2 linked regions of the Homo sapiens genome follow. The protein of the gene in region 1 purifies or fractionates together with the protein of each later gene. This does not show direct contact. Each region holds a gene or a part of one and is shown in the gene's direction. Other genes may lie near its edges.

Evidence for each region.
Region 2: the proteins of CDKN3 (region 1) and RMND5A purify together in Homo sapiens (affinity purification with western blotting; 2 studies listed by BioGRID, with this or other methods). This does not show direct contact.

The regions. Positions count from the first base shown.
Region 1 is NC_000014.9:54,402,113-54,418,868, forward strand, and holds part of CDKN3 (cyclin-dependent kinase inhibitor 3), read left to right. Parts: intron 1-6,632; coding exon 6,633-6,677; intron 6,678-9,371; coding exon 9,372-9,594; intron 9,595-13,786; coding exon 13,787-13,818; intron 13,819-15,735; coding exon 15,736-15,839; intron 15,840-16,101; coding exon of another isoform or gene 16,102-16,161; exon of another isoform or gene 16,162-16,194; intron 16,195-16,756. UniProt on the Homo sapiens protein: May play a role in cell cycle regulation. Dual specificity CC phosphatase active toward substrates containing either phosphotyrosine or phosphoserine residues. Dephosphorylates CDK2 at 'Thr-160' in a cyclin-dependent manner.
Region 2 is NC_000002.12:86,717,567-86,734,322, forward strand, and holds the start of RMND5A (E3 ubiquitin-protein transferase RMND5A), read left to right. Parts: upstream 1-2,724; 5' UTR 2,725-3,101; coding exon 3,102-3,243; intron 3,244-3,415; exon of another isoform or gene 3,416-3,556; intron 3,557-16,756.

The DNA.
Region 1 (16,756 bases):
TAGGAGAATTGCTTTGACAGGAGGCAGGGGTTGCAGTGAGCCGAGATCGCACCACTGCACTCCAGCCTGGCAACAGAGCGAGACTCTGTCTCAAAAAAAAAAAAAAAAGAATAATAGTCTCCAGTTCCACCCGGGTTGCTGTGAATGCCATTTTGTTCCTTTTCATGGCTGAGTAGTATTCCATGGCATGTGTGTGCGTGTGTGTGTGTGTGTGTGTGTGTGTATGTATATCTCACATTTTCTTTTTTTATTATACTTTACAACCCCACTTTTTGATGGGGATGTTTGTTTTTTTCTTGTAAATTTGTTTAAGTTCCTTGTAGATTCTGGATATTAGACCTTTGTCAGATGCATAGACGGCAAAAATTTTCTCCCATTCTGTAGGTTGCCTATTCACTCTGATGATAGTTTCTTTTGCTGTGCAGAAGCTCTTTAGTTTAATTAAATCCCATTTGTCAATTTTGGCTTTTGTTGCAATCGCCTTTGGTGTTTTAGTCATGAAGTCTTTGCCCATGCCTATGTCCTGAATGGTATTGCCTAGGTTTTCTTCTACAGTTTTTAGAGTTTTAGGTCTTAGGTTTAAGTCTTTAATCCATCCTAAGTTAATTTGTGTGTAAGGTGTAAGGAAGGGGTCCACTTTCAGTTTTCTACATATGGCTAGCCAGTTTTCCCAACACCATTTATTAAATAGGGAATCCTTTCCTAATTGCTTGTTTTTGTCAGTTTTGTCAAAGATCAGATGGTTATAGATGTATGGTGTTATTTCTGAGGCCTCTGTTCTGTTCCATTGGTCTATATATCTGTTTTGGCATGTGTACCATGCTGTTTTTGTTACTATAGCCTTGTAGTATAGTTTGAAGTCAGGTAGCGTGATGCCTCCAGCGTTGTTCTTTTTACTTAGGATTGTCTTGGCTATATGGGCTCTTTTTTTGTTCCATATGAAATTTAAAGTAGTTTTTTCTAATTCTGTGAAGAAAGTCAATGGTAGCTTGATGGGGATAGCATTGAATCTATAAATTACTTTGGGCAGTATGGCCATTTTCATGATATTGATTCTTCCTATCCATGAGCATGGAATGTTTTTCCATTTGTTTGTGTCCTCTCTTATTTCCTTGAGCAGTGGTTTGTAGTTCTCCTTAAAGAAATCCTTCACATACCTTGTAAGTTTTACTCCTAGGTATTTTATTCTCTTTGTAGCAATTGTGAATGGGAGTTCACTCATGATTTGGCTCTCCGTTTGTCTGTTATTGGTGTATAGGAATGCTTGTGATTTTTGCACATTGATTTTGTATCCTGAGACTTTGCTGAAGTTGCTTATCAGCTTTGGGCTGAGACAATGAGGTTTCTAAATATACAATCATGTCATCTGTAAAAAGAGACAATTTGACTTCCTCTCTTCCTATTTGAATACTCTTTATTTCTTTCTCTTGCCTGATTCCCCTAGCCAGAACTTCCAATACTCTGTTAAATAGGAGTGGTGAGAGAGGGCATTCTTGTCTTATGACGGTTTTCAAAGGGAATGCTTCCAGCTTTTGCCCATTCAGTATGATATTGGCTGTGGGTTTGTCATAAATAGCTCTTATTATTTTCAGATACGTTCCATCAATACCTAGTTTATTGAGTGTTTTTAGCATGAAGGGGTGTTGAATTTTATCAAAGGCCTTTTCCAGATCTGAGATAATCATGTGGTTTTTGTCACTGATTCTGTTTATGTGATGGATTATATTTAATGATTTGCATATGTTGAACCAACCTTGCGTCCCAGGGATGAAGCTGACTTGATCGTGGTGGATAAGCTTTTTAATGTGCTGCTGGATTCAGTTTGCCAGTATTTTACTGAGGATTTTCGCATCGATGTTCATCAAGGATATTGACCTGAAATTTTCCTTTTTGTTATGTCTCTGCCAGGTTTTGGTATCAGGATGATGCTGGCCTCATAAAATGAGTTAGGGAGGATTCCCTCTTTTTCTATTGTTTGGAATAGTTTCAGAAGGAATGGTACCAGCTCCTCTTTGCACCTCTGGTAGAATTCAGCTGTGAATCCATCTAGTCCTGGGCTTTTTTTGGTTGGTAGGCTATTAATTACTGCCTCAGTTTCAGAACTTGTTATTGGTCTATTCACGGATTCGACTTCTTCCTGGGAGGGAAGAAGTCCCTTTAGTCTTGGGAGGGTGTATGTGTCCAGGAATTTATCCATTTCTTCTAGATTTCTAGTTTATTTTTGTAGAGGTGTTTATAGTATTCTCTGATGGTAGTTTGTATTTCTGTGGGATCAGTGGTGATATCCCCTTTATCATTTTTTATTGTGTCTATTTGATTCTTCTCTCTTTTCTTCTTTATTAGTCTGGCTAGTGGTCTATCTATTTTGTTAATCATTTCAAAAAAACCAGCTCCTAGATTCATTGATTTTTTGAATGGCTTTTTATGTCTCTATCTCCTTCAGTTCTGCTCTGATCTTAGTTAGTTCTTTTTTTTTTCTTGAGACAGAGTCTCACTCTGTCGCCCAGGCTACAGTGCAATGGCACAATCTCGGCTCACTGCAAGCTCTGCCTCCCGGGTTCATGCCATTCTCCTGCGTCAGCCTCCCTAGTAGCTGGGACTACAGGCACCCACCACCACACCCAGCTAATTTTTTTGTATTTTTAGTAGAGACGGGGGTTTCACCGTGTTAGCCAGGATGGTCTCGATCTCCTGACCTCATGATCCATCCACCCGCCTTGGCCTCCCAAGGTGCTGGGATTATAGGCCTGAGCCACCGCACCCGGCTTGATCTTAGTTATTTCTTGTCTTCTGCTAGCTTTTGAATTTGTTTGCTCTTGCTTCTCTAGTTCTTTCAATTGTGATGTTAGGGTGTCAATTTTAGATCTTTCCCGCTTTCTCATGTGGGCATTTAGTGCTATAAATTTCCCTCTAAACACTGCAGATTCTGGTACATTGTGTCTCTGTTCTCATTGGTTTCAAATAACTTCTTTTTTTCTGCCTTAATTTACCCAGTAGTCAGGGGCAGGTTGTTCAGTTTCCATGTAGTTGTGCAGTTTTGAGTGAGTTTTTTAATCCTGAATTCTAATTTGATTGCACTGTGGTCTGAGGGACTGTTTGTTATGATTTCTGTTCTTTTGCATTTGCTGAGTAGTATTTTGCTTCCAATTATGTGGTCAATTTTAGAATAAGTGCGATGTGGTGCTGAGAAGAATGTATATTCTGATGATTTGGGGTGGAGAGTTCTGTAGATGTCAATTAGGTCTGCTTGGTCCAGAGCTGAGTTCAAGTTCTGGATATCCTTGTTAATTTTCTGTCTCGCTGATCTGTCTAATATTGACAGTGGGGTGTTAAAGTCTCCCACTATTATTGTGTGGGAGTCTAAGTCTCTTTGTAGGTCTCTAAGAACTTGCTTTATGAACCTGGGTGCTTTTATGTTGGGTGCATATGTATTTAGGATAGTTAGCTCTTCTTTTGCATTGATCCCTTTACCATTATGTAATCCCCTTCTTTTTCTTTTTTTATCTTTGTTGGTTTAAAGTCTGTTTTATCAGAAACTAGGACTGCAACCCTTGCTTTTTTTTGCATTCCATTTGTTTGGTAAATATTTCTCCATCCCTTTATTTTGAGCCTATGTGTGTCTCTGCACGTGAGATGGGTTTCCTGAATACAGCACACCAATGGGTCTTGACTCTATCCAATTTGCCAGTCTGTGTCTTTTAATTGGGGCATTTAGCCCATTTACATTTAAGGTCAATATTGTTATGTGTGAATTTTATCCTGTCATTATGATGCTAGCTGGTTATTTTGCCCATTAGTTGATGCAGTTTCTTCATAGCGTTGATGGTCTTTGCATTTTTGTATGTTTTTGCAGTGGCTCATACCAGTTGTTCCTTTCCAGGTTTAGTGCTTCCTTCAGGAGCTCTTGTAAGGCAGGCCTGGTGGGGACAAAATCCCTCAGCATGTGCTTGTCTGTAAAGGATTTTATTTCTCCTTCACTTAGGAAGCTTAGTTTGGCTGGATATGAAATTCTGGGTTGAAAATTATTTTCTTTAAGAATGTTGAATATTGGCCCCCACTCTCTTCTGGCTTGTAGGGTTTCTGCAGAGAGATATGCTGTTAATCTGATGGGCTTCCTTTTGTGGGTAACCCAGCCTTTCTCTCTGGCTGCTCTTTACATTTTTTTCCTTCATTTCAATCTTGGTGAATCTGATGATTATGTGTGTTGGGGTTGCTCTTCTCGTGGAGTATCTTTGTGGTGTTCTCTATATTTCCTGAATTTGAATGTTGGCCTGTCTTTCTAGGTTGGATAAGTTCTCCTGGATAATATCCTGAAGTGTGTTTTCCAACTTGGTTCCATTCTCCCCGTCACTTTCAGGTACACCAGTCAAACATAGGTTTGGTTGATTCACATTGTCCCATATTTTTGGAGGCCTTGTTCATTCCTTTTAATTCTTTTTTCTCTAATTTTGTCTTCACACTTTATTTCATTAAGTTGGTCTCCAATCTCTGATATCCTTTCTTCTGCTTGATCGATTCAGCTATTGATACTTGTGTATGCATCACGAAGTTCTCCTGCTGTGTTTTTCAGCTCCATCAGGTCATTTATGTTCTTCTCTAAACTGGTTATTATAGTTAGCAGTTCCTCTAACCTTTTATCAAGTTTCTTAGTTTCCTTGCATTGGGTTAGAACATGCTCCTTTAACTTGGAGGAGTTTGTTATTACCCACCTTCTGAAGCCTACTTCTGTCAGTTCATCAAACTCATTCTCTGTCCAGTTTTGTTCCCTTGCTGGCGAGGAGTTGTGATCCTTTGGAGGAGAAGAGGTATTCTGGTTTTTGGAATTTTCAGCCTTTTTGCTCTGGTTTTTCCTCATCTTCGCGGATTTATCTACGTTTGGTCTTTGATGTTGGTGACTTTTGAATGGGGGTTTCTGCGTGGGCGTCCTTTCCGTTGATGTTGATGCTATTGCTTTCTGTTTGTTAGTTTTCCTTGTAACAGTCAGGCCCCTCTTCTGCAGGTCTGCTGGAGTTTGCTCGAGGTCCACTCCAGACCCTGTTTTCCTGGGTATCACCAGTGGAGGCTGCAGAACAGCAAAGATTGCTGCCTGCTCCTTCCTCTGGAAGTTTCGTCCCAGAGGGGCACCTGCCGGATGCCAGCTGGAGTTCTCCTGTACGAAGTGTCTGTCGACCCCTGCTGGGAGGTGTCTCCCCGTTAGGAGGCGCGGGGTTCAGGGACCCACTTGAGGAGGCAGTCTGTCCCTTAGCAAAGCTCGAGCACTGTGCTGGGAGATCTGTTGCTCTCTTCGGAGCCAGCAGGCAGAAATGTTTAAGTCTGCTGAAGCTGTGCCCACAGCCATCCCTTCCGCCAGGTGCTCTCTCCTAGGGAGAAGGGAGTTTATCTATAAGCCCCTGACTGGAACTGCTGCCTTTCTTTCAGAGATGCCCTGCCCAGAGTGGAGGAATCTAGAGAGGCAGTCTGGCTACCATGGCTTTTCCACACTGTGGTGGGTTCCGCACCCAGTTCAAACTTCCGACTGGCTTTGTTTACACTGTGAGGGGAAAACTGCCCACTCAAGCCTCAATAATGGTGGATGCCCCTCCCCCCACCAAGCTGGAACATCCCAGGTTGACTTCAGACTGCTGTGCTGGCAGTGAGAATTTCAAGCCAGTGGATCTTAGCTTGTTGGGCTCCGTTGGGGGTGGGATCCACAGAGCAAGACCACTCAGCTCCCTGGCTTCAGCCCTCTTTCCAGGGGAGTGAATGGTTCTGTCTTGCTGGCATTCCAAGTACCACTCAGTTGGAAATGCAGAAATCACCCGTCTTCTTTCTGCATTGGTCTTGCTGGGAGCTGCAGACCAGAGCTGTTCCTATTCAGCCATCTTGCCCGGGAATCCCACATTTTCTTTATCTACTCATTAATTGATGGGCATTTGGGCTGGTTTTACATTTTTGCAGTTGGAAATTATGTTGCTATAAACATGTGTGTGCAAGTATCTTTTTCATATAATGACTTCTTTTCCTCTGGGTATATACCTAGTTGTAGGATTGCTGGTCAAATGGTAGTTCTACTTTTAGTTCTTTAAGGCATCTCCACACTGTTTTCCATAGTGGTTGTACTAGTTTACATTTCCACCAGCAGTGTAAAAGTGTTCCCTTTTCACCACATCCGTGCCAACAATATATTTAGAACAAGTATTTGGTCAACTAACACATCATTCTCTATACTGGGCAATAAGTAAATTTCACAGACCATCAGCACTGGGGAACACACTTTGCGAAGCCCTCATGGTGGACTATAGTTAAAGGAACATAGATCTACCTTTCAGCCCTTCCAGATCTGCAGTCACAGCCCTACACTTGTACTTTGCCAATCTTAATAAAGCTTAAAGCCTGGAGTACAAATGAGGCTGAGGACTACAACCAGGTACTTGTTACAGAAGAAACACAGAATACAGAATCCTTGCTTAGGATGAATCCCTGTAATTATATTCCTAGAAATATAAGAAATTGAAATTCATATTCAAAATATAATTGAAACATATAAATGATTACGTGAAATGACTTTATAAAGTAGCTATATAAGTGTTTAAACATACCTGTTACATATGACGAAAAACTGACTTTTTTACTTGCTTTATTATTACTTATAGGTTGTAAATTTAAAGATGTTAGAAGAAATGTCCAAAAAGATACAGGTAGGTATAATATCACGCAACCACACTCATGGGTTTTTTAAATGAATAGCATTGAAAAACTCTCTGTCAAAAAGAACAAATCAGTTTTTTTTTAATATAAAAATAAGTTTTCAATATTGTGTGAAGTTCCAAACTATAGACTTATTCTGATATGTAAAGAGGTATTTGTGAAGACCATCATTTACCTAACCATGGAGTTGCTTTTCACTGATTGTTGTAGTTATATTATACATATAAACTACATTTGAGGTTAGAATGTAGAAGTTGGCATGAAAAAAAGTATGTAAATAGGAAACTGACATATTGCTCCCCCCAGGTCTTTACTGTTCCTTGCAGACTTGACTGTGGTAGTAGAAATTAAACATGAGCTGGGAACTCCAAGTTAGCAGTGAAATTGTGAATCCTGGATGGAAAATTTTGAGAGCCAGCATCTAGATGGAAAAGACAGAATGGGAACTGGTTGTTGCCTGCTCAAGGATGTTCATACCATTATAGCCACAAGTCTAATAATCCTCATAATCTGCCCCAATTTGGAATTTACATATTGCATGATACTAACAAATGTGGATTTTCAAAAGATTTTATTCTGATTGGCCTGGAATGTCTCAAACCTACTAGTCCTACCGATATCCTTATAGTATGGCAAATTAAAATGTATATATTGCTTGATTCTAACTAGTATAGATTTTCTGAATCTTAAAAACTTTTCGTGGTTATTCTAGAACATCAGTTTGCTAATGTACTTTTAAAAATTTATTCCTGGTCAGGTGCAGTGGTTCACACCTGTAATCCCAGCATTTTGGTAGGCCGAGGCGGGTTGATCGCTTGAGCTCAGGAGTTCGAGACCAGCCTGGGCAACAAGGCAAAACCCTGTCTCTGCAAAAAATACAAAAATTAACTGGGCATGATGGCGCGTGCTTGTAGTCCCAGCAACTTGGGAGGCTGAGATGGGAGGATCACTTGAGCCCAGGAGGTCAAAGCTGCAGTGAGCTGAGATGGTGCTGAGATCACAAGGTCTTGCTCTGTCATCCAGGCTGGAGTGCAATGAGCTGAGATTGCATTACTGCACTCCAACCTGGTGGCAGAGCAAGACCCTGCCTCAAAAAAAAAAAAAAAGTATTCCTTACCTACCAAAAAAAGACTTAAAGACAGTAATAGATAGTTGACCCTTATAGTATTTATAAAACTTTTCTGCTTTAGACACACCCACCATGCTAGGAAATTTCTATTTGGAGAACATTTAGGTCATAAGCAAAATATATGTAATTTAAATCATTGGTTCAAAGTCAGTCTTGTACATTTTGGAATGTCATATTCATTTAGCATTTTCTATAAAAACAGTTTCCAATTTTTTTCAAAATACTTTTTTTTCTGCAATGAAATCTTAAATGGAATCCAGTACATAAAACAGGTCAATATGTTTGATTGGAGACCTAGAATCTCCCTGCAGCAGTTCCTGAGATACTTTCTTAGCCCTTTCTCAGAAAGTTGGAAAATCACTGGATAATAAAAATTACCAAATGTGTACAAAAGGCAAATAGATGTATAGTACTGTACATCTCAGGGATTAGTTCATGAGAAGGTACTTTGTACTTAAATAGCTACATGTCCTTGGATTTAAGGGACAGGGAGAGGGCTGGAGTTGGGAGCACTTAGATCATCCAGTTATTTATTTTAAACCAAATGCTCAATAGTTAATATTGCCATAAAGAAGTCCTAGTGTATAGAATGCCTATAGTATTCATATCATTATAATGAGAATAGCTAGGTCACAGAAGTTTAATACAGGTAATGTTTTATTTACTGGCGACCTAGTCTATAAAATTAAATACACAAGGATGTGTTACAGTGCAGATATGAGGGAGAATACTAGCACCTCTGACACCATGGCCATGCTGGAGATTTTATATACAATACTCAGAGTCAAGCAAACAGCTAAGTGATGAAGTAGCAGACATGGTTGATTTTGTGAGAAAAAGAAAAAAAGTGCTATCATCCTTAATTGAACATAGATCTATCATACCTTAATTGATAGCACTTTTTTTCTTTTTCTCACAAAATCAACCATATTTGCTACTCAATTTTAAGTGTTTTAAGAGTTATTTTATGCCAGGCATGGTGGCTCATGCCTGTAATCCCAGCACTTTGGGAGGCGGAGGCGGGCAGATCAACTGAGGTCGGGAGTTCAAGACCAGCCTGACAAACATGGTGAAACCCCGTCTCTACTAAAAATACAAAATTAGCTGGGCGTGGTGACACATGCTTGTAATCCCAGCTACTTGAGAGGCTGAGGCAGGAGAATCACTTGAACCTGGGAGGCAGAGGTTGCAGTGAGCTGAGATCGTGCCATTGCACTCCGGCCTGGTGACAGAGCAAGACTCCATCTCAAAAAAAAAAAAAAAAAAAAAGAGGGGGGGTTATTTTAAAGCAGTATTCATTGCAAAAAAAAATTTTTTGCAAGAACAGCAATTGACTTATTTTGAAATTCAGTAAAAGGCATTTTGACTTGTAATATGAGGTTTAATTCTAGACCCCTTTTGATTCAGACATATCAATAGGCACTTCAGATTTATAGATTGTCATTTGGTATTAGTTTGGCTTAAGAAATTTAATTTCATATTCTCCCTCTTGATGGTATTTAAATGTGTGATGTTTTCTATGTGTGTGTGTCTGTGTATCCTGGTCTATTGGCAGAAGAACTAAAGAGCTGTGGTATACAAGACATATTTGTTTTCTGCACCAGAGGGGAACTGTCAAAATATAGAGTCCCAAACCTTCTGGATCTCTACCAGCAATGTGGAATTATCACCCATCATCATCCAATCGCAGATGGAGGGACTCCTGACATAGCCAGCTGCTGTGAAATAATGGAAGAGCTTACAACCTGCCTTAAAAATTACCGAAAAACCTTAATACAGTACGTTCTTTTCTCCATACACTATGTGAGAAATGTCTCAGTCAAAATGATTTCTGGAATTATGGTAGCCCTATTCAGTTATCACCTACTTCATAGTTTGTTGTAAGGATTAAAAGGTAATAATGCACTAGGAAAGCACTGGCACAATGTCTGGTACAGGGTAAGTAGTCAAATACGTGCTGTTATTACTTTTCAAGAGTAGGGACAATAAATGAGTAGATTTGGAAATTGTTAGAACAAGGTTACAAGCTTTTCTTTTTTATTTCTTTCCTTTAGTCTTAGACCTTTAGTTGCAATTTTGGGACCCTCCTTTCCCCTCATCACCATCACTGCCTCACTTATTAGCTTTTCAATTGCTTAGTTGCTTTCAATAGCAAGAAAATCAATTTTTTGGCCAGGTGCAGTGGCTCGCGCCTGTAATCCCAGCATTTTGGGAGACTGTGGTGGGTGGCTCACTTGAGCTCAGGAGTTCAAGACCAGCCTGGGCAACATGGCAAAACCCCATCTCCGCAAAAAGTATACAAAAGAACATGCCAGGCATGGTGGTACGTGCCTGTAGTCCCAGCTACTCAGGAGGATGAGGTGGGGGAACTGCTTGAGCCTGGGAGACAGAGGTTGCAGTGAGCCAAGGTGACAGTACTGCACTCCAGCCTGGGTGACAGGGAGACCCCATCTAGAAAAAAAAAAATAAAGAAAGTCGATTTTTTCAAAATTAGCTACCAAAAAAGTTACCTCTAAGCAATAAGCAATCCTAAAAATATGACTTGAAAATTACATTTGATGATATGACTGCTAACAGATTGAAAGAGGGCCTCTCATTGTGTGTCAGTGGCTATAAAAACACAAGCTGCTGGTGTGAAAGTTTAAAACAAAAGAAGATGGGTTAAGGAAAGGGGACAAAATGAGGAGGAAAGAAAAGCAGCTTGGAGGAAGGCCAGAGAGAGTGGCAATGGGCAGTAGATAGTAGCATGGCAAAGATTCAAAGGGGCGATGTGGATAAAAAACAAGAGATGCTCTGCCGGAAGTGAAACACACAAAGCAACAGAGAGCCAGCCATGGGGAGGAAACTGGACTTTGCCGTGCATAATGTATATTTCATATTCTAATAACCTGCTTAATCCTTTCTCGAATAAGGTAGGGTATTAAATAGTTTACGACCTCAAAAGCCCCAAGTTCCTTAAGGACATTGCTTTGAGCTAGAAGTATAGAAATTATATCAAATAGCCATGGGGTTCTCAGGGCACCTAGTCATAGGACAAGCCCAGCCAACTTCTCCTCTTAAACCTATAGCCCAGGGGCCTCATGCCAACAGTGTCAGTTCTGAAGGCAAACCAACTAGTACGAGGGTCTTTGGGGACACACACCTGTTTGTGGCCAAACTGAACTCTGACATACAGAGAAATATAGTTTGCAGAATATGCAGTAGAGAACTAGAAGCCATTCTACATCCTATTGTTTCCCATCTTCCTCTATGGAAAAAGCATAGTCACTTAACCAGTACTAATTATAAAAGCTAAATTTCAAATAGATCCAGTTGATGATGTGAAAGTTTCTGATACATATAGGTAAAATAGTATTAGATAGTTAAATGTAGCTGGGGAAAAATATTTTCCAACATAGGGCCCTATTTTTCAAACCATTTTGAGATCTTTTTTTTTTTTTTCAAATAAATTTTTGAAAGCAGCCTCTACTGAAAAGTTTCCAGAAATCAAACTAGCTCTGTTTAGTGAAGTGAAGCTTAACAAATTCTACTGTAGCTGGTTCTGGCAACCCAAATGCTCTGATGTTTGTGCAGAGTACAAACAGGATAGACAGTAGATGGGTGACTTTGCATATGCTGAATGTTTCAGTCTCCCATAAAATAAAGCATCTGACAACTGGCATTTTTCATTGTCCTAGAGCTTTCGAAGGTGTCCTACGGTGACTAGTTTATTTTCTATCCATTCTGCCATCTTTGAGGACCCACACTTCTAGACAGCTATAGAGCTTATCCTTCAGCAACAGGATCTGGTAAACCTTTTTCACTGACCTGTTGTCTACCAGTGCTGTCTCACTGGTTCTGCCTGGACATTTGCAGCCCTTTATAAAATTAGTGAACAACACTGCTTGCCTACTGTATTTTGTAGTTTCTTGGGGCTATTGTAACAAAGTACCACAAACCAGGTAGCTGAAAACAACAGAAATTTCTTCTTTCCCATTTCTAGAGGATGTAAGTCCAAAATTAAGATGAGAGCAGAGCCATGCCCTCTGAGACTGAGGAGAGTCCTTCCATGCCTCTTCCTAGCTTCTGGTGGTGGCCATCAATCCATGGCAGGCCTTGGCTTGCAGCTGAATCCCTCCAGTCTGCCTCTGTCATCACACACTTCCTCGGATGTCTGTGTCTTTGCATGGTGTTGTCCTTGTGTAAGGACACTAGTCATCTAGGATGAGGGCCTGCTCTAATTCGTCTTAACTTGAATATACCTGCAAAGACTCAAATTCTGAATAAGGTCCCACTCACAGGTACAGGATAAGGACTTCAGCATGTCTTTTGGGGGGACATAATTCAACCAGTAACACCTACCGTGTACCACACGCCAAGACTACCAAACGAGGCACAGTCCCCACCTTCGAGGAACCTATAACTAACACTACCATTTAACTGCAATAAGACAGGAGAGGCAGCACACAGGAAAATGATCCTTTCTGTAGGAGCACAAAGGCATTTTAGGAAATGAAATTTGAGGTTTTAAAAGATAAGTAGGAATTCATCAAATAGAAGAAAAAAGATGAAAATAGCAAAAGGTATAAAATAGTATTAATCTTGCAAAAAGACACTGAAGTGTTCTATCTTGATCTTTTTTTTTTTTTTTAATAAGGCAGTTGTCTCTTCTCTGTCACCCAGGCTGGAGTGCAGTGGCACTGTCATAGCTCACTGTAGCCTTGAACTGCCGGGCTCAAGCGATCCTCCCACCTCAGGCTCCCGAGTAGCTAGGACTTCAGGTGTGCGCCACCGTGCCAGGCTTTTTTTTTTTTTTTTTTTTGGAGAGACAGGGTCTCACTTTATTGCCAAAGCTGGTCTTAAACTACTGGACTCAAGCAGTCCTCCCACCTTGGCCTCCCAAAGTGCTGGGATTATAGGCCTGAGCCATCATGCCCAGCCTCTCCCTTTATATGGTAGATCCAGATCTCTGAAACAGTTCTATGTCTGGAACACTTTGTGGAAAGCAAGTTCACGAGTAAGACTAGGGGTCAATACCTATTCAGTCCTCTATTTCACATCCTAAAGCAAAATATATATCTACAGCTTTACCTACAATACAATACAATACAATACAGTAATTGATGTCCATAACGATAAGTCATCCACACTAAATTAGGCTCAGTATACCCTCTAAGTACATTAGGAAGCATGTAATACATTTTTTAGGATCTTTGAAAATGACTTAAATGAATAGTTTTGCTACTGAGGATTAATCTCCATTTTTCTGGAAAATCCAGTTATACAAAACTGCTAATTTCTTTACAGTGCTAGATAACAGCAGCTAATGTTCATTTACTTCTTACTCTGCACAAAGCTGTGTTCTAAGTCCTTGGCAAATGCTCACTCATTTGTGAGCCTCATTTAATCCTCACTCTGATGTACATACTATTGCTATCACCATTTTAAAGGTGAAAAGGCTGAGTCCCAGAGAGATTAAATAACTTGCTTAGCTTTACACATCTAATAAGTGGCAGAGCCAGGACTGAAGCCCAGGCAGTGGTGCTCCAGAGCCCATGCTCCAGACTTCGGTGATACCCTATCTCTGGACTCCTTTAGATACATGAATGGTTATTATCTACATGGCATTTGTGCAGTAACCACTCAGATTTTGTTTAGACAGAGGAATAATCAAAGTGACAGTTGGTAAAAGTCTGATTTCTATCTATTGGTAACATGCTCCATTTCTCAGATGTGGATCTTGGAACCTAAAGAGGTCAATAAGAAGACTCTGCCTATCTTGATGCTTAGAGGTGTTCAGAATTCCTCCCAACAAAGAAATAAGCACACCTTGCTCTCAGTTGATTAAATCAAAAATATTTATTAATCTTCGTGTGCAAGGCACTGTGCTAGGCATTAGAGTTGTAAATAGAAGGCAGAAAGAGCAAGTCTTTAGTTGTAACTAGGGATGGAATGAAATGTACAAACTTCAAAACTGTATTTCCCTTTCAGCTGCTATGGAGGACTTGGGAGATCTTGTCTTGGTAAGAAATATATTTCTATTATTTTTTTAACCGCCAAATAGACAAACTTCTGTTTCCAGACCATATGTTCATTTTGTATTAAAATGGAACCAAGCAAAATATAAGTTTGCTAAGACTCAAAGGATTACTTAAGGCCCTAAACATGGTGTTCCCTGGAAAGCTTGGGTGGGAGTGGGAGGTATTTTCAGCATTGTTCTGGAGGATTCTGGCAAAACATCATTTACAAGTCTTAACACCTGCATTCTTATTTTTTAACATTTTTTGATGTTCTTCCTGTGGAGGTGTTATAATAGAGTAACTTCCAAATAGTTTCCATGGGTAACTATTTATGAATACCAAAGTTAATTACTATATGTTAATTTAAAAAATGTTTTAATGTACTAAGAAAAACAAAAAAGAGTTCGTGAAATGCCACACTGGAGTAGTAGTTATTTTTTTAGTGTTGGATGATATCAAAATTGAAAGCTTTTGTGTTTCAAAGAATACTATCAAAATGACAAGACTACCCATAGAATGGGAAAAAATATTTGCAATCTATATATTTGATAAGGGATTTGTATCCAGAATATAAAAAGAACTCTTACAACTCAGTAATAAAGATAGGCCGGGCGTCGTGGCTCATGCCTGTAATCTCAGCACTTTGGGAGGCCAAGGCAGAAAGATCACCTGAGTTTAGGAGTTTGAGAACAGCATGAGCAACATGGTGAAACCCCATCTCTACAAGAAATACAAAAATTAGCCAGGCATAGTGGTGCATGCCTGTAGTCCCAGCTCCTTGTGGGACTGAGGCTGGAGGACTGCCTGGGCCCAGGAGGTCAAGGCACCAGTGAACCGAGTTTACACCACTGCACTCCAGCCTAGATGACAAAGTGAGATCGTCTCTCTCAAAAGAAAAAATAATAATAATAAACAAACAACATAACTGAAAAATGGGCAAAGTATCCGAATAAACCTTTCTACATGCAAGATACACATATAGTCAGTAAGCACATGAGAAGATGCTCAACATCATCAGTCATCAGGAAATGCAAATCAGAACCACAGTGGATACCACTTGACACCAATTAGGAAGGGTATTATAAAAACATGAAAAATAACAAGTATTGGCAAGGATGTAGAGAAATTCGAACCCTCATACACTGTTGGTGGGAATGTAAAATGGTGCAGCGGCTTTGGAAAATAGTCTAGCAGTAGTTCTTCAAACAAGTAAACATTAACATATGACCCAGCAATTTCACTCCAAAGTATATACCCAAAGACTTGTATACAAATGTTTATAGCAGCATTAATCATAATAGCCAAAAAATGGAAACAGCCTAAATGTCCATCAGTTGACGAACAGATAAACACAATGTGGCATATCTATACAATGGAATATTATTTGATCATAAAAAGGAATTAAATACAGACATATGCTACAATATGTATGAACCCTGAACACATTATGCTAAGAGAAGTCAGACACACACAAAAAAATATTGTATGTTTCCGTTTATGTGATTGCTCAGAATAGGCAGATCTACAGAGACAAAGTACACTAGTGGTTGCCTATGGCAGGGGTTGATGGGGAATAGAGGATGACAGCAAAAGGGTACACTTCTTTCTGAGGTGATGAAGTGCTTTAAAATTGACTGTGGTGATGGTTGCACATATCTGTAAATATACTAAATCACTGAATGGATGAACACTTTAAATGGATGAAAGAATGAAGCCAGTGTTAAACTCTAATTCAACCATACGGTCATTTAAGATCATAATTTAACTGTCAAAAACACACACTAAAAGTCTCAGTCTTTTAATTCATTTGGAACAATTACACCAGTCTTCTGTATCAACAGAAGTCTTATTAAATATAAAATGCTGTACCCTGTCACTAGTTATTTAATAACATATTATTTTTCTGTCATGTTCCATTAGTAGCTGCTTGTCTCCTACTATACCTGTCTGACACAATATCACCAGAGCAAGCCATAGACAGCCTGCGAGACCTAAGAGGATCCGGGGCAATACAGACCATCAAGGTGAGGAGGTGGGCGGTGCTTGCTTGGTTGTGGTTGGGGTCGTTGTTACAAATACAGATTCATGTGTAACCAAAAGGTTACATATGAAAATCCAAAAGGGCAGTGAAATGAAAATCCAAAGCACTCTGTTATTCAAATACCACTTGCTTATGCTTTTAGTTTTTAAAAATTTACAAGTAAATATAATCCAGGTAGTCTAAAAAAGCACACAGGATTTCAAACAAGATAATGAAAATTTGAACTTCCTGGTTTACTTTTCCAGGATCTACCTACTTCTCAGTTTTTGCCCCAGTCCGTTTTGGGAATGGATCCTCTCACCTAGGACAATGAGATGGTTATTGTTAATACAAACTTGGTACGTTCTTGGGTAGATTCTTGGCCAAAAAAAATCTATGGAAGATCTTGTTATATCACCAAAACATTTAATAAAGACAGATGAATGACTATAATACAAAAAATGGAAAGCAGTGCTAATTATCCTTTGCAGTAGATAACTGGGGACATCTTCCACATGTACATTCCCCTAACACTTCAAAACACTGCACTAGCAATGCCAAGGATATTGCATTAATCATGTTACTGAAAAGATTCTGCAGATGTCACTTCATTTTGTAGATCTGTAAAGCTAATGTGCCTTCTTTTCAGAAGCGTGCCCTCTCAGCATTAGAATCCGCTCATCAGAGGAGTGGGCACCAAAGAATCCTGGCTGTTAGGCAGCTCCCTAGACTTGAGAGCCCATCTTCCCAGGGTTGGAGGTCTAATCCAGTGTCATTAACAGTGAATTATCATAATTACTGATAAATTCACCAAGCAACCTGATTCTTAGGGCTTAAATAAGGTCATTAACGGGACAATCCATACAAGATCCACTCCACTGTACAGGTCTGAAACAGACAACTCTCTTTATGTTAAAAATC
Region 2 (16,756 bases), on another chromosome or scaffold:
TCCCAGCACTTTGGGAGGCTGAGGCGGGTGGATCACGAGGCCAGGAGTTTGAGACCAGCCAGGCCAATATGGTGAAACCCTGTCTCTACCAAAAATACAAAAATTAGCTGGGCGTGGTGGTGTGTGCCTGTAGTCCCAGCTGCTCAGGAGGCTGAGGTAGGAGAATCACTTGAACCCGGGAGGCAGAGGTTGCAGTCAGCCGAGATCCCACCACTGCACTCCAGCCTTGGTGACAGAGTAAGACTCCATCTCAAAACAAAAAAACAAAAAAACAAACAAACAAAAAAACCTGCTTGTGGCTGGTGATTATGGTATTGAAGAGTGCAGGACTAGGTTCTAGAAGGTGTCACTAGTTAAAGTAAGACTTGTCTTGTTACTTGAAGAAAGGGAGGATTCGAAAAACAGAATAAAGAAAAGTGTCCCAGAAGAAGGCAAAGTATGAATGGGCTGTACTCAAGTCACACTAAGGGTGGGAAAGTGCTTCATGCCTGGATAGGGGTTTGTGCTGTGTTGCTACACAGGGCAGACCATGTCCTTGAGAGAGGATCTGAAGCTGTAGGTAATGAGGAGTCATTGATTATTTGTGATCAGTGGATTATCATGGCTCTTACCTTGTGCCAGGCATTTTGTTGAGTGCCTTAAATGGAATATTTCATACTATAACAACCCTTTGAAGGAGAAGAAAAAAAAAAGACTGAGAAAAGGGTGACTGAGCTTATCAAGGAGATCCTTGAAGAAAAGGGAGGAATAAACATAGATTTGTCTAGGCAGTTTGGCAGTGAAAGAAATGAGTGCTTGAGGAGGGTTAAATTAAGTTTCCTCCCCCAGGTAGGTCAAACCCATTTGGGCTGAAAGTAGAAAGGAAGAACCTACTGCAGAGAAAGAGGGGGAAGATCTGGACAGGGGTGAGAGGCAGCCCGCAGGCCCCAACGGCTGTCTTGGAAAGGGAGAAGGGACTCCTGGTCCTTTGGGTACATGAGAATGTTCACAAAATGGGTGGTACACAGCAATACTTGGAGAAGAGTGATAGAAGTTGCTGGAGCTAGATTTTTTTTTTTTTTTTAATCTCAGTGAAGAATCAGAGACATCTGCCAAGAGGGAAGAAAAATGGGGTGGGGAGAAGGGAGATCTGAAATAATACCAGTTGGGGCTGCCCTAATAATGACTACTACCACCTTTATCATGTGGTTATCATGAGCCTATTATGGGTATTTACATATATTCTCCTTTATCTAACAATTTAGTTAAGTATTAATTCCAATTATTTCTCAGTTATACGGAAGTTAAGGCTCAAAAACGTTATCACGTTAATTTAAGAAAAAGAATTGCCTACCACCTCACGCCAGGGGCTGTTCTAGGCAAAAAATTTAGACAAGCAGGGGGCCTGCCGTCATGGTTTTATGTAAGTGGTGCAGACAGAAAAATAAAACATCAGATCATTTCAGAGTTTAAGTGGTGTGGAAATAATAAAATGTGTTATGGTATTAACGGTGGGGAGGAAGTACATTAGTGTGGTCAGCCAGGGGAGGACCCTGTAAGGGGACAAGTGAGCTGAGAAGAACTTCAGGATGAAAAAGGTAGGAGGAAGAGTTTTCTGGGCCAAGGAAAGGGCAAGTGCAGAGGCCCTGAGGCACGAACTAGCTGGGCTCCTGAAGAAATGCAAAGGTAGTGCAGCCGATGCTGATCAAGGAGGTCTAGGCCAAGGCTGCAGACGCCATAGCAAGCGATGGGAAGGATTTACCCGAGGGGGTAAAGCCGATCCGATCCGATAGCATAAGGCTTCCTAGGGAGCAAGGGCCAGGCTGCCCGGCTCTCCAGCGCGTGTTCTTTCCACCCGGCTAAGCTGCCCGGCACATGGCTCTGGGGCGAGGCCACCGTCAGGAGAGGTTCCAGGCCAAGGGGCCAAAGGGCCACGGTCCGCGGGGGATGGGGACATGACCTCCTGGGTGTCGCAAGCCCGGGGCAGCGCTGACAGCCGGCGCGGGCCTTTCGCGAGCAGCAAGCGGCTCCCCTCACCCGGGCCCAATCACCCCCGCCTTTAATTCCCATTAGGGACCCCCCGCCGACGCAGAACCAGCCCCCGGGCGGCCTGGCTTGGTTTTTCATTCCCGGGAGATGGATCCGTCGCCCAAAAGTTCGGAATGACGGTACCCCTTTCCCTTAAGATCGATGAGGAGACGAAATAAATTGGGATCAGGGCGACGTCCTATGGAAAACAGCCTTTTGTATTTTTGTCTAGTTTTCCCCCAAGGCTTTCCATAAACTACTCGTTTCTCGGTACGCTCTCCAAGTCACCCCCTCCAACAGCGAGCCCGTTGGTTTGGCCCCTCAGCCCGGATTGGCTGAAGGCTTACGCCTCGGCCAGGGATTGGCTTCTTACCACTCCCCGCGCCCATTGGTTGGGGTTCCCCGCTTCTGGGCGGAGTGGTGAGGGCCGGTTTCCGCCTCCTTGTTTATGGAGCGCGTAGTTGTTGCGCTCTCCGAGCGCTGGGGCTGTCTCCAAAGTTCCCTATTTAGCTCCTCAGGCCAATTGGGGCCTCGCTCCACCCTCGCCCTCTCCCTCGCACGCCTTCCGTGTGGTACGGCCCACACCATTAGAGTGGCGGCGCGTGTGGGCGCCCGTCGCGTTCCTCCGCCCGTTCTCGCCGGGTCGCACCCCCCACCCCGAGGGTGTACTTGGTACGGCCCGCGCCGCCTCCTTTCCTCGCCCGGGTGGCCATCCCCCTCCCCCCAGTCGGCGGCGCTTGGTGCCGCCCGGGAGAACCAGGTCATCGGTCGGTTCCCGTGAAAACAAAAACAATCGGCCGCGCCGTCGCAGGCACCCGAACGTCGCGAGCGGGGCCTGGGGACGCGGAGCCGAGTGCAGCGAGCGAACGGGAGCAGCGGCGACTCGCCGGGGGGCTAGGGCGCCATGGGGCAGGCGGGCTCCGGCTGCGCGGGGCTCCCCCGGCGCCGCGGCTAGTGCGCCCGCCGCCTCGGCCGCCTCAGCCTCCCGCGCCGCCCGCTTGGGGAACGAGGAGCAGGACGCGGCCTCGGTGGGGCCCGGGCCGAACGGCTGCGGACACCTGGGCGCCGAGGAGCCGAGCGCCGCCGCCTCCGGCATGGATCAGTGCGTGACGGTGGAGCGCGAGCTGGAGAAGGTGCTGCACAAGTTCTCAGGCTACGGGCAGCTGTGCGAGCGCGGCCTGGAGGAGCTCATCGACTACACCGGCGGCCTCAAGCACGAGATCCTGCAGAGCCACGGTAGGGCGGCCCGCGTGGGCGCGCGGGGCATGGCCCACTGCCCGAGCCCCGGTCCCGGCCCCGCGGCGGGAATCCCTCACCCACCCTCGCGCCTCTGGCCCGGCCCTTGCCTCCCCTGAGGCGCGGAGGCCCCCAGACCCCTGAGACTTTTTCCCCTCTTCGTCCGATTTACCTCGAACCTGCCGCGACCTCGCTGCCAATTCAGAAGGAGCGCGAACCACCCGGAAACCCAGCCGGGAGCGGCGGGCTCCAGTCCGGATAAACGTGGGTGAGGGGGCCGCCCATCGCACCTGCAAACTGCCGACCCCCGAGTGGGCGCCCCTCGTCCCCCGCTCCCAGCCGGCCCCGGGAGTCTCACGTGGTGCCCGCGGCGCTGTTCTGTGGGCGGTGACTGAATCGCCTGGGACCCCAGGTTCTGAGTGATGAGGGCAGTGCAGGAAGCTCCGTTTCCCCTCTGTGCCGCCCCGAATCCTTGGCCAGGGGACTTCGTTTCTTCGTTTTATTTTGGAAAGTCGAGCGTTATTCTTAGCTGTGGGTTAACAACAGCCGCTCCTGCAACTTCATGATTTGGCTGCTGTGTGGACGCAGCTCTTAACTCCGCAGCGGCTCTGACATGGTTCCTTGGAAACCAGCTCAATTCAACCCTTCTGTTCTCCCAGTGTACCTTCTGATGACACCGAGGAGGAACGGGCGACATTTGCCCAAGTAAATTGTGCACATGTTGCTAGTTACTTGCTTTGCCTGGTTAAGTTCGTTCAAAAAAAATAAATTTTCCTATAGAAGGTGTTTCACCTAGATTGTTTTTTTTTTTACTGCCCCAAGCCCTGAGGACAGGTACTTTTAAAGGTTTGGTTTTCTTACACTTTAGAAGTCACAGCGATGATTCCTTTTGATCAAGAAGTGAAGGACTTATTTAATGGGTCTTTAATAAGAGGCTGAGGGGGCTTTTCAGCTTGTGGGCTGAACAGAAATTTATGTGAAGGACGGTTTGGTAGCTGGGGGAAGATGCAGATTATTTGTGGCAGGTGAGATGAGGGCAGTGGCGTTAGCTGAGTGTCTCTCTCCTTCTCCTTCATTTTTTCACACTTTCCCAGACTGCGTTTCAGTTGAGGATGGGTGCTGGTCCATGGGAAAGGAGTCTTACAGCAGCTTCTCATTCTGGACACTGCAGTCATTTTTGAACTCCAGGAAGGAAGCAAACCTGCAGTCATAGTGGATGAGATTTTAATATGGAAAAACCGTATTAATTCTCATAGGAGTTGCAATACTAGTATGGAAAAACGAGCAGACCTTGGTGGCTGCCTGTGAAGGGAAATTTGACTGACGTGGCGATGATGATATAGTTGGTAGATACAGGGAAGTGAAGGTGGAATGGGACAGGAATCCTGGGAAGACTTTGAATTTGGTTTTGGACATGTGAAGTAAGGTTGAAGGGCTTAATGAAGATAGAATCGAGGGCTTTCCTATTTACTGGTGGCTGGAGATGCATAGGTCTAAGATTGTTTTCTGATGTCATTTCTAGGAGGACAGTGGAGGGGATCACTTAGATTGCACAGAAGAAAGACTAGAGTCTAACCACAGTCTTGAATTTTCCTTGGCGAGTGGAGAGCCAAGGCTAGATAGAGCCAGCAGAAATCGAAAAGGGCGAGGACTTAGAAAAGGAGAGATTGGTCAGCTTTTATTTGGCTATTGGGAGTCAGTAACCCTCTGTGCTTGCAGTTTCATAGAATTGCTAAGACAAGCCAGATTACTGGGGGTTAAGAAGAAAAATTCGATGTGAACCGAGGTGTGGGAAATCCAGTACAGCGGTGGGAGGTATTCCCTCTGTGCTCCCGGCCCTGCCAAGGAACCAGTGGAGGAAGAGAATGAAGGGCCTAGACTTGGAGAGGTGGAAGGAACATTTCGTTTTTAGGGACCAGGTCATAGGCAGAGTTTGAGAGGAAAATGATGGAACAGAAAGTACCTTTCTTCCATGAGAGAGGATGTAAGTTGAAGGGGGATGTGATTGTGAGCTTTGTTTTAGAAAATTTAGGGCCAGGCTCAGATGGATAAAATGATGGTGAGAAATTGCTGAGGCAGGAATTTGTTTTTGACTCTCCACTGGGTACTAGGGAACTTTTCTCAGAATTTATGGTTTGAGGGGTATTGGCCACACAGTATGCTATGCTGTTAAAAACAGTCTGAGTTGGTGAGTTTGTGTGTTCCCTTTTCAGCCTCCTAATTTTTTCCCTCTTGTCTACCAAATTGCTAGTCTTATATTGGTATCTCTTTGATTTCCTTTAATTCTTCAATAATAGGATTAAGTGACTAAAGGTAGTTATAAAACATGAAAGAAAATAAATACCACAAGTGCCAGGTCTAGTTTCCCAAATAAAATCTTTCTTCTTTTGGTGTTTTTTTGTGTAAAGATAAACATCATGCTTTGGCATCTGGGCTATGGTATTTTTGAAAACAGATGATTTCTAAATTAAAGTTCTCGGCAGGTGATGTGGTAGATATTACATTGAAACTTAAATATGCCCTTCTCAAAGGTATTTTACTGAAAACTGAGTTTGGAACTCTATTTTCAAGTTTAAAGGGAAGATTTTTGGGCTTCTGAATATACCTGTCTGGGCAAATGATTCTGATAACCTGAGAGGCTCTAATTGGGACCCCTCTGTCAGGACTTTGGACCTCATTCTCTGAGATTACTTGTGGTAATACTTGCAAGAATCTGGTATGAATAAAACAGAATTTTTGAGGACTATATAGAACACATCATTGCATCATACTGGTGAATGACTGTTGCAGAAGCATCCTTTAGCCAACCTAAAGGGATTGGTTCAGTTTCTGAGGATGAATGTTTTATGTTAAAATTTTTTTTTCATCTCTGAAGTTGTGAGCAGACAGCTATATACTAAATGAGCTGTTAGGATAGTTTGTGATGGAAACTGATCATACATAAATAAGAGTTTAGTTAGTAAGCCCATTGACAACCCTTTTCTAGTCTCAGCACCCTTATTCCAGATTGTAAATACTGCCTGATTGCTGGCTGGGAGATAGTCCTGCAGTGAGCCCTAAAATTTCTCAGGTGGTCTAAATCACCTTTAAGTAGCTTGAAATTCTTTTACATAAAATTTCTCTCGTTAATCTTTTTTAAAATGCAAGTTTCTTAATGCAGATACACTTGGGGAAATGAGGATAGTATGGGCTGGTCTCTCATACCTGGTGAATTGGTTTGTGCTCTGCCATTTAATCCACCTCTGGCCAAATCCGTCAGCCTGACAACAGGAATATCTTTTTTTTTTTTTCTTTTAAATGGGGTTGGACTGGTATCAGGCCTGCAGCAGAGAACAATAATGGAATATAAGGCTCTGAGAGGGAAGTGCAGGCTTCGACTTGGTGCCATAGACAGTTAGGGAATATTGGTGGTTCAGGGACAACATAGGTGTAATAGAAACATGAAGAGGCAATAAGAACCAGGGAGAATACTGAAGAGCTCTGCCGAGGCCAAGACATTCCTCTCCCTGGAGACTGACTCTAGACTTCTCTTCATGCCTTTGGAATTAGAAACCTTAGGGTGGTAGATAGGAGGGTGGGGAGTGATCCAGAGCCTGCAGTGAGGTGTCCAAGGTAAGAGGAATAGAGATCACAGCTTCTGTCATTTAGTTGTGCCAGCCTTTCAGTGAGAGTTTCCCTGTGAGCACGAAGTTTGGTCTAAGTTCATTGTGGTTAATGTAGGCTGGTGGTCATTCCCAGTGTGCCTCGATCTAATTTGTATAGTGCACTGGTGCTTCTAAAACTTCACTCATACACATGTGCACTCTTATTTTTCAGATGGATTCACGATTTTACTTAAGTAGATTTATCTTAGGCAGTGATATTTGTGTAGTCCTACATGTGGTATGTAGGTATTAGGTATAATAAACTACATGTTAAAATAAATTCATAACAATTAAAATATTAGTTTACATACTAGCTAAAATTACCATTCGCATCAGTGGTATGGGAGCGGTGCTTTGGATAACCCTGGCTTAACAGGGTTAACTACTGTATGGTTAACTTTTAGTGATTTGATTTGTGAGTATATGCCTTTTAGCATTTTTTTCCTATTGGCAAATTTATATTGTTTCCCATTAGCACCTCTGTGGTGGAAGGGAAAAACAGAAAAGAACTATTTATCATGTTTTGCTGGTATTCTGCACTCATACTTTGTGAAAGAAAATTAGGCAGAAACAGTTGGTAATGGTTTCAGGACACATTTAAAAGTATACTTGGGAAAATTGCAGTTTTTGTAAGAGTAAAGGACATGCAGTATTCTTTTCTGATTATTTTTAGACTAACGGAGTTCTAATGTGGTTTCTGAAAGTGACTTTCAAGGAATTTTCTAAATTTAAAATTTATTTATTAATTTTTAGTAAGTCATACATTCAAATGGTATCCATTCAAACAATGAAAAAGATAACCCAGTGAATAGTACATTCAAATGGTATAAACTCAAATGATAAAAAAGGACACCCATTGAAAAATCTTTCTACTCTTGTTCCTGGACCACCTGGTTGCCCACTTCACAGACATAAATGCCAGTCTCCAGAAAAAAAATTTTTTTGTTGTTTTTTGAGACAGCCTCCCTCTGTCACCCAGGCTGGAGTGCAGTGGTGCGATCTTAGCTCACTGCAACCTCCGCCTCCTGGCTTCAGGCAATTCTCCTGCCTCAGCCTCCTGAGTAGCTGGGATTACAGGCACCACCTGCCACCATGCCTGGCTAATTTTTGTATTTTTAGTAGAGACGGGGTTTCAACATGTGGGTCAGGCTGGTCTTGAACACCTGACCTCAAGCAGTCCACGCGCCTCGGCCTTCCAAACTGCAGGGATTACAGGCGTGAGCCACTGCGCCCGACCTCCAGAAAAAATTTTAAAAGAATCCAGTGAAATGACGATTTGTCACTTTTCCTTTTTTCTTTAACGCATCAGATATGTATTTCCATTTACTATGATTAAGGCTTAGTGTTATCTCACTTTGCAAGTTGGTAAAGATGTCTTCATCTGTGGGAGTGATCAACATATACTGTATTAGCACCTAAAACTCCTTTGGTGTGTGTGTATGTTGTGACTTCTAGTAGTAAAACTCATGTAAACCATAACTCCTACCCTTATCTCTTTGGTGAATCAAAGAAACTGTTGAAACTTTGGTTACCAGTTGGAGAACTGCTTTCTTTTTAAAAATGTGAAGGTAACAAATGAGAAGGTAAGTAGGCAAGTAAAACATGAAAAACAAAAAAAGAAACTTGTGGAGGTCACATTTTTAACTCATTGCTGTGGTATGATATTGCATCAGTACACAAAAACCAGAGGTTGAGGGTCGCATGTTAGGTATAATCTTCCAATCTAGAATTTGGGTTGTGTATATTAAACACATGTGTTGAAAAGTATGCTTATTTGTATATATGAATGATCTGTGCTTTTTCAGAGCCGACCAGTGTTGAATATATTGTTTTGAATGAAAGTAAATGTATTATATCGGGGCTTGGTAGACTTGTAGCTTGTTTACCTTTTTAGCCTTATTCTTTGGTGTGCATGGAGTAGGCCTCATAGCCAGGTTGCCCATTTGTTACCCAGACTTTTGCTAAATACTAACAAGACACTCTTGAGAGAATAGTGACTTTGTTTTGAATACAATTTGATATCTGTTTTTAACATCTAGTCTGGAAAATAGTATATCAGTAGGTCATAAATAAAAGTTTGGGAGGACATTGTTCAAACATTCTAAGAGAAGAACAGACTGGTTCTCAAGTTATTTAGGCCATTTTAGGTGGTAAGAATAAAAAGTCAGTATATTGGTGTTTCCAGTTGGGTTTAGAAGTAGATTTAACTTTGTTAGCCATTCTTTTTCCAGACGTACTCTGGAGATAATTAATTCTTTTTTATTTGGCACCGTATTCATTTAGACTGGCAGGTGACATAATAGTGTTCATTAAAATGGAATTTGTTGATGTATAAATAGGCTGAGGTTAGGGCTAGGCTGGCTCCAGGGGCACCAGGCATGTCATCAGGACTGATCTTGTTCTCTTCTGTCAACTGTTGGCTTTATTTTCAGGGTAGTTTTCTTCACATGGGGTAGAGATGACCAATGGAGCTCAAAAGACAGGAACATGGCCATTTTGTTGGAGATACTCCAGGGAGTACCTTTATTATTCCGTTATGGATCCTTTCCCTGAATCAGTAACTGGGACCAGGGAGTGAGGTCTTCTGGCCACCTTGAGCTGTGCTCACCCCCTCAGGAGGTATATGGCCTTATAATACACTGTTCATCAGGTAAAGAGACAGTTCTAGAAAGGAACACTTAAACCCAGACAGAGTAATATATGTCTATTACAGTGCAACAGCTACATGTTATATCAGTAACATTCTCTGAGATGTTTTCCTGACTAGCCTCGCCTTCTCAGCTTTTGCCTGGCCTCCTAACTATAATGCTCATATAATTCAAGTAGTGAGTTGTTAGTATGACTTAATCTATAGACTAGAGAATACAACTTGGTTCATGTTCCTCTAGAACTTTTTTGAAATTACTTTAATGCTTGACATAGTAAAGTAATTTTCCTAAAGTTATTTTATTTCTAAAGTAGTTTCTAACTCTGGATAATAACATTGGTAAGGAGAAACTTGCCAACACTTCTGTGATACTGTCATACTAGAGCTAATAGAGAAGTTTCTGTTGTTTTCATGTCTTAGTCTCTTAGTCTTTAGGATGATGAAAATGGTGTTTTAGCAAACTGTTCACTTGGAATATTAAAACTAACTTATTTTTATTTAGGGCCCTGCTTCTTCATCTGTAAGGCTTCCAAAATCTTTAAAAATGATCCAAAAATGCAGTTTAGGGAGAAAATTGTGGAGGGCCCTGGCTCTGAGCTATGTGTACTTGGAGACCCGTGGTACTTCCAGGAGATGATGCTCTCTAACTGGACGTTTCCTTGAAAGCTCTGAGAGTAGCAGACACTTCTGGCCATTCTCTTTAGATTAGATGTTAACTCAACCCTTCAGAGAACAAAGACTAGACTGTCTGGCAGGACTCGAGGATTTTGAGAAATACAGTATGCTTTCACCTTATATGGGTGTGGTGATTGTGTGGCTGAGCTCAAAATGGTTGTTTGGGAATGTCGCTTGGAGAGGCCATAGGCTTATATTACCAAGTCTTTCTCCACTTAAGATGGAGGCCTGGATGGTGATTTCGTCTGTTATGGGGGCACAATGTAGTGTCAGGCTGTGTGTTATTTATGATGAGTTTGTTGTATCTGCAGAATTCATATAGGTTTAATTCATCTTATTGATACATGAAGACATTTGGGAGGAGATGAGGAGAGAATCTTTTAAAAGAAACATTATTCATGGCCCTGGTCCTCCAGGAACTTGGAGGCTAATTGAGAAGATGAATCTGTATTTGTGGAATAGTACCTAAAATTTTGACCCTGGGCCCAGGAGGTCTGGGTTTGAATCCTTGCACTGCCAATTTACTGGTTCTACAATCTTTTTTTTTTTTTTTGGAGACAGAGTCTCACTCTGTCACCTAGGCTGGAGTGCAGTGGTGTGTGATCTCAGCTCACTGCAACCTCTGCCTCCAGGGTTCAAGCGATTCTTGTGCTCCCAAGTAGCTGGGATTACAGGTGTGCACAATGCATGGCTAATTTTTGTATTTTTAGTAGTGACGGAGTTTCACTATGTTGGCTAGGCGGATCTTGAACTCCTGGGCTCAAGTAATCCACCCGTCTCAGCCTCCCAAAGTGCTGGGATTACAGGCATGAGCCACCACGCCCGGCCTGATCCTACAATCTTGCTTAGCCAGTTTTTCCTTCAGTAAACTGACATCACAGAGTTATGAGAGTGAAATAAATAATAGACGTGAACTGGCTTTGAAATTTGTAAAACAGGGTAGACGTGTTATTTATAAAGTCTGTGCCTTAAGTGGTGTTAAGCTTTTTTTTTTTTGAGGCTGAGTCTCGCTCTGTCACCCAGGCTGGAGTGCAGTGGCATGATCTTGGCTCACTGCAACCTCTGCCTCCCAAGTTCAAGCGATTCCCCTGCCTCAGCCCCCGAGTAGCTGCGATTACAGGCGCATGCCACCAGGCCTGACTATTTTTTTTTTGTATTTTAGTAGAGACGAGATTTTACCATGTTGGCCAGGATGGTCTCGATCTCTTGACCTCGTAATCTGCCCGCCTTGGCCTCCCAAAGTGCTAGGATTATAGGCGTGAGCCACCACGCCGGGCCCAAGCACTGTTTAATTGAGACATTTTGGGTAATATTTAGGTGTCTTTATTACTGGTTTATGTTAAATACCACTCTGTGTCCAGTGGTCTGCTTAACATTGTAAAGAATGCTTAAAAGGTATAAGAAAGAGTCTTTAAGGAACTTAGAAGTTAGTTGGAGAGACCAGACTCATATTTGAAAGGGGGAAAAAACAAGACCACGGCACACAGTGTATAACAGTGCTTCTGGTGAGTACAGACACCAGTGAAGAGAGAGAGCCCTTAGAAAGAACTGCATGGGAGTAGATGGGCATTATTTCAACTGAACTTTAGATCACCTCATCAGTAGTTATTAATCACCATTTATAGGTAGAACTAAGCAAAATCTTCTAGGAGTTACAAAGAACAAGCATTTTCATCCTCTAAGAACTTTGTGTCCAGTTAGGGAGATGAGACTGGCATTTTTTAACAAACACACAAACAAAAGCAGTGCCCTGTAATGCACGGTTATGTATCTAGGCTAGATGCTACATGAGTGGTGTGGACAAAAAGGGGTGGGATTTGAGACAAGGAGAGACTCTTTTTACCTATGGGAAGTTTTAGTAGCAGAGATTGAATATGGATAGCAGAAAGAGCAGATGGAGTGCCTGGAGGGGAGGATGGCAAGAACAAAGGTGTAGAGGAGTGAGAGGTGAAGGACCAGATTGCAGGGGAAAGGCGATAAGAGCATTAAAATTAAATTGGAATCAGGTTTTGTAAAGCCATGGATACCAGGGAAAGTAGTAGACTGGGAAGATATTGAATTACTTTGGGGTGGGGTGGGGACATTTTGAATAGGGAGGGGACAGGGACACGATCAGAGACCAGTTGTCAGCAGTATTTAGGTTGGTTTGGAGTTGGGAGTGAGGTTTGACTAGAGGCAAGAACGTTAGCTAAGGCTAAGTGTCAACCTAGATTTGATGAAATAGGGACCTGTCTTTGGGTACTGGTGGTAGAAATTTAAAGGGACACATGAAAGGGATTTCTGAGGGAAGGAATGACCAGGAGTTGGTGCACAGATGGAGTCTGGCAGAGTAGGAGAAAAGGGCAGGAAAAACCAAAGGTTAATCCAAGGTTTTAAACATGAATGATGGGTAGATCATTATGGAACCAGGTAGAAAATAGGAAGTTTAGGAGAGGGGAAGGTGGAAATCTGAGTTTGATTTTTTTTTGTTTTTGTTTTTGTTTTTTTGGGGGGTGGGGGAGGGGGGGTCTCATTCTGTTGCCCAGACTGGATTGCAGTGTCTCGGCTTACCACAATCTCTGCCTCCTGGGTTCAAGTGTTTCTTCTGCCTCAGCCTCCTGAATAGCTGGGATTACAGGCATGCGCCACTACCGCCTGGCTAATTTTTGTAGTTTTAGTAGAGATGGGGTTTCACCATGTTGGCCAGGCTGGTCTTGAACTCCTGAACTCAAATGATCCACCCACCTCGGCCTCCCAGAGTGCTGGGATTATAGGCGTGAGCCACTGCACCTGGCCTGAGTTTGATTTTTAAATATGAAATCCAGATTCCAATGCTACAGGAAACCTAATGTGGTTCCACCATTCATTTCAGAGATAAATGAGATGCCTAGAGATTAAGTCTTTATATTTGGAATTTGAAGGGAGTGAATAGGTTCTCTAAAATGTGACTGTCACAGACATATGTTTAAAATCTTGTGCCTGTATCTTTTTTCTTCTCTCTGCAATTCTTGCCTCATATACTTTGAAGCCTTTCCTGTCTTCTCTATGATAGTCATTGATACTGTTCTTTGCTCCAGGAGCACTATTAGTCTGTACCATGTAATTTCACTCTAAATATTAACTTTATTTCGTTTTTTTCCCCTCATGTTTGGTTTGCAGCACACTGTGCCTCTAATTTGATGCACAGTCTTTAATAATCTCTCTGGATCAGAACACGTGTCTGTCAGTCTACTGTTCTCTGAAAGGTCAGGAGTTGAACACCAAATACCATACTTTCTTTTACTTTGCAGATTTACCAGCTACTAATATACTGGAAAAATTTTGTTTTCAGTGTTTACCTCCTCCAGAAAAAAATGAATGTGTTCTATTTGTGCCTTTTCTCTTTCCTCTAAGCAGCCGCTGTGTCCTAGGTGCTGAAGTAGCTCACAAGAATCCCAAATTTCAATGGGCCGCAGTTTATTTTACTACAGACAAAATGAAATAGTCCCTTATTTTTAAAAAATTCCAACCTTACCTTTTCAAGTTTCAAGTTTTTCTATTCTAGTACTTCGCAAGGATATCCATGGTCACCTTGTCAGTGACTTTTCTAGAGTCAGTCTTAGATCTTTTTATCCTTTATCTACTTTATTCCCATTCTAAATTTCTTAAATCTGTGTAGAAATTGGTAACATGGGAAAAGTATCTTGAACATTGCTGACACAGGCCTTCAGCACTCAATAAATGTTAATTGACTCTAAATGTTATAGTTCTCCCTTTTACATTTTTTTCTGTTTTTTCTTGGTTTCATTTTGTATTTTAAGGCATCAAGGCTTTTATAAGAGTGGTATATCATAGATTTCCCCCCCCACCAGCCTTCTTAGTGATGCCTAATACTCTTTTAGCTTTCTGATTTTAGTGTTTTTATTTAAATAGCTAATCTAGAATGAATTCTGGAGTATATCTCTATGAGGTCTGAGTTTTCATTTAGGTACAGTTAGGTTTGTTTCCTAAATGGATTTCTTTGTATTTATCTGCATCAAAACTTGTGTTCCATTTTGCTTTCCACTTAATTCTAAATTTAAGATCTCTGTCCATCTTATGAAAGTGGAGTTAACTTTTCATAACTCAGAAGAGCTCAAATGCGATACATGTAATATTTATAAACTTGGATATTTTAAATTTTTACTGCCTATAGGATATTCATTAAAATGTCAAGCCAGGTCTTAGTGATTTCTGCGGAATCTTATTTCTGTGGAAATATTCCAGTCTTAGGTGGTGATACTTTCAACCTTCTTGAAAATCATCACCATAACAATACTTTTTTATATTGTGCCTCCCTATTTTTTTATAGAGTGCTCTCAAGTATGGTGGGTCTCATCTCTCATGTGTTTGACTCGTGGGCAGCATGTATTTCATGGTGTAATTGACACCTTTAAACTGCCTTTTATAGACCAAATTAGAACTTTTTATTATCTCCTGATGGCAGACATTTCAGGCTGCAACATGGTGTGCTGCCTACCAACCAGCTGTTTAGTTTTAGCAATGCTATCTTTAACAGTGTGTTTGTGCAGTTGAACCCCCTCCCCCCATATCATAAAAATAAGTGGCAGACGGAAAATTAAAAGTGCAGATACTGAGTAGGGATGAGAAACGTACTTGTCAATATTAATGATATATTTGTCTAGATTGTATTAAGGTGAGCCAAAATAGTGGGTAAATCTTGTCACGGAGCTGGACACGAGACGTGCTTTTTTTTGAGGCTTGTGATCAGTAGGGAAGAAAGTAAAACAAATGTATGTACAAAATGCTAAAAGTGTATTGAAGGTGTAACCAAGGTATTAGTAGGGATTTTATAGTTTTTAGCTTTGTGCAAACCAGTCACCCTTTTAATGTGTACGTTTGTTATACCTTCCTATATTCTGACTTAGAATATACTTTTATAGGGTCACATTATATATTAGAGATGTTTCATTGCATCTTTGACAAATGTGGAAATAGTTTTGTAAAAAAGAAACTGTCTCAAAAGTGACTTGAGTCAGAGCACAAGCCCATTAATTCCTGGGGTTGGTGGGAGAGGTCATTATTTGGAAGAGAGAAGGAACTTATAACTGATGCCAGGGGACTCTTTTGTGAATGTGTCTTATTTGAAAATATGTGTGCATATGTGTGTTTGTATGTTTGTGTTGATCTTGGGTACTGTGACCTTGTTGAACTCTCATCTATTCTTGGATTGTGTTTGTGTGTAGATTCTTTGGGATTTTCTACTTAGGCAATAATGTTATTGACAGACAGGAACAGTATTATTTCCTAACTTACTTGGTATTTGCAGAACTTAGGCTGCAGTGTTACTGTGTAGAAGATGCTAAACATTCTGTGAGAGAGTGAGGGGTCAGTGGACTGCTGAGTGAAACTGCTGGCAATTTCAGAGGGTGTTGGTAGTACCAGACAGTCTTCAATGCTGGGTTTGAAATTGAGATTATGTAATACATAATTAATTATTTTCATATTTATTCTTTTGGTAACTAGTTACTGAACGTGTAGTATTTGCCAGTTACTATACTAAACGTTGGGGATTGGTCATATTTCCTACTAAAGTTAATTTTGTGGGAGTAATGGACAAATAACTATTTACAACAAAGTGTGAAACTCTGATAGGGAAGTATAGGATGCTATGGAAACAAACATTTTTCTTATTTATTGTTTCTGTGAAACTAGTGGGCATACATCCTAAAATGGCAAAGCAGTGAGGCTCAAGGGCAGAACTTGAAAATTTTGAGTATCGTGCTTAAAATCTGTTTATATGATAAAAGGTGCTGTTCTATTTTATTGAAAATTTTAACTTAATAAAGCAACACACGTAGATGGTCTACATATGTTCGTTCTTTGCTTATATTGAACATGCTAATTCTTACACTTGTTTAATCATAAAACTGACTTTAAAAAGTACTTGTGACCCTCCAGTGATGAGTGAGCATTGCGTCAGAGTTGTTTCTTTCAGGCTCATGCATTGGGCCTGGGTTCCCTGGGTTTACTACATTGGAAGACACAGTTAGTGCAGGACTTTCTTCTGGGTGACAAGTGACCACCGCAGTGGCCAACCTGGATGTAGTTATGGTGGAGATGGCTGTCACAGTAATTCCCCAGCTTTTCTTCTAGGAACTGAATCCAGTTTCTTTCACATAAAGGTTCTCCTAGAAGCAGGTTGTGTTTTCATACAGAGAAATCAAAAGAACATTAGAACTCTCCCAGTAGGACTTATAGAAGTTTGGTTGACTGTCAGTCTGGTCATTATAGCAATTTTCAAACCTGTTTTAAACCTTTGGCTGCTTTCCACTGAGTCCATTTGAAAATGCATTAGTGAACTCTTTCTCTCTTAACAGGGCTTTCCCAGGGTTCTCTTTCAGATTATTCCATTCTGCTTTTCTTGAGTTTCCAAATACCTTACAGAAATTATTTTTCCTTGGAGCATTCTGAGAACTCTCAGTATTAATTAATTGGCCATAAACTGCTTGTATCTGTCATTCATAAAATTGAAAACCAAAAATTAGAGGAATTTGTAGATGGTAAAGGAAGAAAAGGAGGTAACAAA